2 separate regions of the Homo sapiens genome follow, and region 2 is linked to region 1. The links come from fine-mapping of genetic effects on gene expression. A gene starts in region 1. The other region holds a variant in brackets. All regions are shown on one strand. Distances are between the middles of the regions. Region 1 holds the start of LINC00941 (long intergenic non-protein coding RNA 941). Region 2 holds the start of IPO8 (importin 8).

Region 1 (2,899 bases):
CAGCCTGGGTGACAGAGCGAGACTCTGTCAAAAAAAAAAAAAAGGGTAGAGTAAGAAGAAAGAAGAGTGGAAGATTGCAGACAAATATGGCCAGCAAGCATCTCTCTCCAGCCCTCTCTGGAGCCACGCTGTGCCCCTGCTCATGACTTTCAGTTGCTTCACTATGCAATGAAAGTCAAAGCCCAGTTCCCATGCCACACACAGAGGAGTCCCTATCTCCTTTTCTGGCATCTTTTCTCACATTCCTGCCACACAGATTCTCCACTCTAGCCACATACCTTATCCTGTCCCACCCAAGGACCTTGGCTTCTACCATCCGGAAGTCTTCTGCCAACCCCAGGGCTGTCCAAATGCCTTTTCTTTTTCTTTTCTCTTTTTTTTTTTTTTTTTTTTTGGAGACAGAGTTTTGCTCTCGTTGCCCAGGCTGGAGTGCAGTGGCGCCATCTTGGCTGACTGCAACCTCCGCCTCCTGGGTTCAAGCGATTCTCCTGCCTCAGCCTCCCAAGTAGTTGGGATTACAGGTACCCACCACCACGCCCAGCTAATTTTTTGTATTTTTTTTAGCAGAGACAGGGTTTCATCGTGTTGGCCAGGCTGGCCAGGCTGGTCTGGAACTCCTGAAGTTAGGTGATCCACCCACCTCAGCCCCTCAAAGTGCTGGGATTACAGGCGTTATCCACTGCGCCCCACCCCAGATGCCTTTTCTATGAAGTATATCCCAGTTGGAAGTAATTTTTGTTTACCCTGGATTTCTGTACATTCACTGATTGTGCAAAGAGCTTGCCACAGGCGGCCTTGCAAGATAGTTCTCTACCTTCAAGCCTTACTTCCTCCGAAATGAGTTAGGTCCCATGACATTAGAGCCTTCGGGATATTTCTGTACAGTTCTAGTTCCTAGCATAGCGCCTTGTATTCTTTAGGTACCTGACAAATGGCCACCAACCCTCCACCGGAGAGGACTTTTTACCAAGCCTGCAGGAAGGGCCAGCTAGGCAGGCGTCTCCCTGCTTTGCCCAACAGTGAAAGTCACAGCACATTTCTCAATATTATTCACGTTAAAAACATCTTTTTCCTGCTAAATAGACACACTCTCCACCCTCTTTTAGTCAATCTTCCACAAAATTAGATAAGGAGAAATAACCCTTTGTTTCACATCCGCTGACTCAGATACGAGCATTATTCAACTGGGCGGGGGTGGCAGTGGATGGGAGGGGGCTGAGCAAACTACAAGTGGAGGAAGAAGAGGACAGCCTAGGAGAGGGAGGGCAGAAGAAAGGAGAGCACATTGTGCAGGGGCACAGTGTTTTGCTGCTCCTTTTTTTCTTTCTTTTCTTAATATGGTCCTGGCTCACAGCAAGGCCACTACCTGACAAGCAGATGAGTCACTTCCTATGGGCACAGCGGGGGTACAACTTGATAGCTACAAAACCAGACAACCTCTCGCCATGCGCTCACCCTGTTCCCAGACCCGGGTGGTGGTCTGGGGGGTTGGAAGGGGCGGGAAGGGCGCTGTCTTAAGAATCATCCTCACATCTCAGGGCTTCGCCCCTCGAGGGAGGTGACCCTTGGCCACCCTCTGCGCAGTTCTCCCTGAAAGGTCATGCCACGTCTTAGCACTCTGGTCCCTGCGCCCCTGCAGGCCTCGCGGATCCCCCACTTGTCTCGACGCAGGGGACGCCCACTTGTCTGACGCAGGGGACGTGGCTGAAGTCAGTCGGGCCGCCCGCTTGCTGCACGGCAGCCGTGGGACTGGCACAGGCTCCTCGGCAGCATTATGGGCAGCTGGTAGAGCGGCCACTTCTGAGAGCCGGATGGGCCTTCCGAGGTCGGGCCGTGCCCCGCTGGGCAGCGCAGAGGGGGTGTGTAGGGCACGCGACTTGGAGCCAGGTCCAGACCCATCCTGGCTCCTCTCAGGGCTCCTTCCCCTGCCCCCATTCCACCCCAGCCCTGCTGGCTGTCCCGCAGGACCCAGCGCCGCGGTAGCCTTCTCTGAACTGCGGCTCAGGCGGAGGTGTCACTCCTGCCTCCAGCCCAGGAGGGCAGGTCAGGTTATGCAACGCGTGCCGCGCGATCTCCCCCCACCTCCAACCCCCTTTTCTCCCGGGTCCACACCGCAGTTCCCACCGCTCCGGGTGTCCTCCCCAGTGCGCCGCGATTTTTGTGTCCAAGCCCCAGAGTCCCTCTGAGACCAACCCCCAGCCAGCACAGACTTCCTGCCTTCCCAGCTCGGGTGAGTAGCCCTGAAACGCCCGCCCCCGCCGCCCCGCGGCCGCAGCATCCTCTCGATGGCCGCGCCTCCGGGACGACGTGGTCCCCTCGAGTAGTACAGGAGCTGCAAGAGAGGCGCGCCGGGGCCAGCAAGCTCTAGAACAGCAGGAGCGGCCCCAGTTGGGACCCCGGGACGACGAGTGGCCGGCAACGCGGCGCCCGCATGGCCCAAGCAGTGTCCGGGAGGGGTCGGGGCCCCGGACTAGGGGCGCAGCGAGGACCGCCCGGAGGCTTTCCCTTGGGCAGCTAAGTCCGAGTCAGCTCTACTCGGATTTCCAGCTTCCAGCCCCGGCTCTGGTGGGGACCATGCCTAGGAGAGTAATCTGAGCTGGGGACTGGGCTCTCCTCCCGCCCCTCCCGGCCCGTGCGCCCCAGGCATGCGCTCCTCCCGCTGCTCCCTTGGCCCCCAGCGCACAGCTCCAAACCCGCGGGGCGAGCCGTCACCTTACTCTCTAGCCTTAGCCGGCCCCCAAATTTAATTTCTGCCCTGGCCGTCAAGCCATAAAAGTCGATTATAATCGCCGCCCCCCCCCGACCACCCCAACCCCCTGCCTTTGCTCTCGCCCCCGTTTCAGACTTCTCTTCTCTTCTTGAAGTCAAGCCCTCAAGTCGGGACTCTAGGAAGTCCGTT
Region 2 (2,899 bases), 99 kb before region 1:
AAAACAGTCCTGCCAACCCGACAGGAGGAGGCGGTGGGCAGCGTGCTCCACAGCAACACCTAAAAAGGGCTGGGTTTGGAAAAAAGCTGAACTCAGATTTGAACTGTAAGTAAAATTCCCACCTGCTCCCCAAGTCCGCGCACTTAAGGAAAATAAATCACACCCTGAAAACACTAGCACAGGTTGCAAAAACTGCTTCTTGCGGACCAAGTAGGCAGAACAAACTGCCCTGGAGAAGGGAGACGACACGAAAAGGTGCAAAGGTGGCCAACAGGTGCGCGAGCTGTTCGGCAAAGATCCTGGGAGCCCTGCTCCACTGGACCGGGGGGCAGCGGGGTCGGAGAGCGGGACCAGCCGTGAGGCGTCAGCCCCAGCCCGGTGGGGGTGAGGACGAGGGGCGCCGGGGAGAGGGAGCCCGGCCAGCCGGCAGGGGCGCCCCTTCGGCGGAAGAGGGTCGCCGAAGACCCTCTCCTCACCTGGTTGAGCTCGTTCTCGGCTGCAATCCGCAACTTCGGGTCGATGGTGCCCTTCAGCGCCTGGATGATCCGGTTGAGGTCCATCTCCCCGGGTGGGGGCTCCGCGGCCCCCGGAACAGTAGGCCGGACTGCAGCTTTAGTTTTCTTTTGACCCTCTCAGCCTCCTCTTCCGCGACCCCTGGATTACCTCACACCCCACCCCCCGCCACCGTCGCCACCTGCGGCCACTTGCTGCGCCACTCTGACTCCGCGCCCCCTGTCCTCCCTTTTTCCCCCCCACAACTCGCTCTCCATTCACCGTTTTACGACAGCCGGTGGGAGGCGGGAGAAGGAAGAAGAGGAAGCAGAGCTTCCTTTACGGCGGCCTCTTCCCCCGGGCGTGATGCTATGACCGCCTCCCGTCGGCGGCCGCCATGCTGCTGTACGGAAAACGGCCTAGGCTTCTTTCCCGGAAAGGAACCCGCGCTCCCGAACTCAGGCAGGCGGCCGCTATGCTTCCGTACGGTAAACAGCCTCCCGCCTCTTCCCAGGTGAGGAAACTTGAGCTGGCCGGGAGTCTGCTTACAGCTGCTTCCAAATTAAGCATATCTGGATGGTGTGACACTTTTTGTTAGTCCGAGAACTGTATGGGCATCGCAACTGGGCCTGTTCCAAGATAGACTTGTTGGGACCTTCAAATCATGTACCTTACAGGAGGACAGGGTTCCTCCGTGTGTGGGAGTCATCGTTCATTCATTCATTCGCTTTCACTGAACATTTGTTAAACATATATTTTTGAACCAGAGTACTAGGATTTTTAGGTACCACATTATAACAAGATGAATTCCATGCAAGTTAATGTGAAGGAATTCACAACCTGATAGATGAGACAAATATAAACAAAAAAAATTTACAGTGTAGAAATGATAGGGGAGTGCTGGGAAGGGAAGAGCGTGGTCCCTTTAAATGATAGG[G/A]ATGGGCGAAGTGAAGTGCTGGGTAGAGGAGTGTGTGGTCCCTTGCTAGGGCTCCACGCCCACCGACCTAGGTGAGGACTGACACTCCTGCCTTCCAGCCCAAATGTTGCATTTCCCAAGACCACCCTGGCCTGCCACTCCCCCATACTGTGCCTATGAAAACCCCAGACCCTAGCAGGCAGGTACACAGGCAGCCAGACGTCCAGAGGAGCATAAGGGTGGAAGAAGAGGAGCTCGCTGGCACATCCGCAGGCCATTCACGGGCAGAACGATGCGGAGGTTGGCCTGGGCAGTCGGAAAAGAGCCCGGGCCGCCAAGCGGCCTAACTCCAGAGGAAAACCATTTCCCTTCTGGGTCCCTCATCTGCTGAGGGCTACTTCCACTCAATAAAACTTTGCACTCATTCTCCAAGCCCACGTGTGATCCAATTCTTCTGGTACACCAAGGCAAGAACCCAGGATACAGAAAGCTCGCTGTCTGTGCGACAAGGTAGAGGGTCTAATTGAGCTGGTTAACACAAGCCCCCTAAAGGCAAACTGAAAGAGCATCCTGTAACACACACCCACTGGGGCTTCAGGAGCTGTAAACATTCACCCCCAGACTCTGTCAAGGGGTCGGAGCCCCACAGCCTGCCGGTCTGTATGCTTCTCTAGAGGTCTGAGCAGCGGGGCACTGAAGAAGCGAGCCACACCCCCAATGCACGCCCTGTGAGGGGGACAAGGGAACCTCTCCCATTTCAGAAAGACAAAGGTCACAGAAACTGAAAACTACATCCCTGAGAGTTTTATGAAAAATTTTCAGACCTTCTCAAAAATGTAGTGAAAGGTAAGCAGAAAAGTTATACTGTTTCTATCCACTGTGGCCATATCTGGCGCCACAATTTCAATGGCATGAAAATATCAAGGAGCTGGTTCTTCCTGAGGTTAACCCAGAAGAGAGGGTTCTAATTACATTTAATAAAGATGATGATGTGGGCAAAACACAGCTGAGGGGCTGTGATCTTTTCAGGAGCAGATAATTAAGATAGATTGGGTCAATTAACTGAGTTCAATTGAGAGAGTAGAAAACATGTGGCTGAAAACTTGGTGGCTTGAAAGCTTCCCCCTCAGTTGGATGCAAAAGTGCTTCACAGTGAATTTAACATGTCTAATTGCTTCCAGTATTGCCCCTCTTTAATCCATTATTCACACTATCATCAGAAGAAAGTTTCTGAAAAGTTAATATTACTATGTCTCTTCCTTGATTTCTCATCAATTTCAAAATAAAATATAAACTTAGCACTCCAGAGTCTTATGAACACTATTTCACTAAACCACTCTCTTGGACATCATGAATGTCTAAAAAATTTTTTATCTCTGAAAATCTTAACTCCAATATCCTCTTTTATAATTAGAACTAATTCTTCCATTTCTCTCTTCCTCAAAAATTCTAAGCTTGTTTTCCAATTCAATCACTACTTCAGTTCTTAGT

What was found. PIP is the estimated chance that this variant, and not a neighbour inherited with it, causes the effect.
Region 2: its variant is fine-mapped to the expression of LINC00941 in fibroblasts (GTEx, PIP above 0.99).

The regions. Positions count from the first base shown.
Region 1 is chr12:30,793,987-30,796,885 of GRCh38, forward strand. It overlaps LINC00941 (long intergenic non-protein coding RNA 941), which reads left to right and starts at 1,695. Exons shown (of 5, transcript NR_040245.1): 1 at 1,695-2,230. RefSeq lists enhancers at 1-482, 483-982, 1,485-1,984, 1,985-2,486.
Region 2 is chr12:30,695,088-30,697,986 of GRCh38, forward strand. IPO8 (importin 8) reads right to left here and starts at 782. Exons shown (of 25, transcript NM_006390.4): 1 at 477-782. The coding sequence starts at 560. RefSeq lists a silencer at 532-581 and an enhancer at 672-1,171. The variant G/A (reference allele first, on the strand shown) is at 1,430.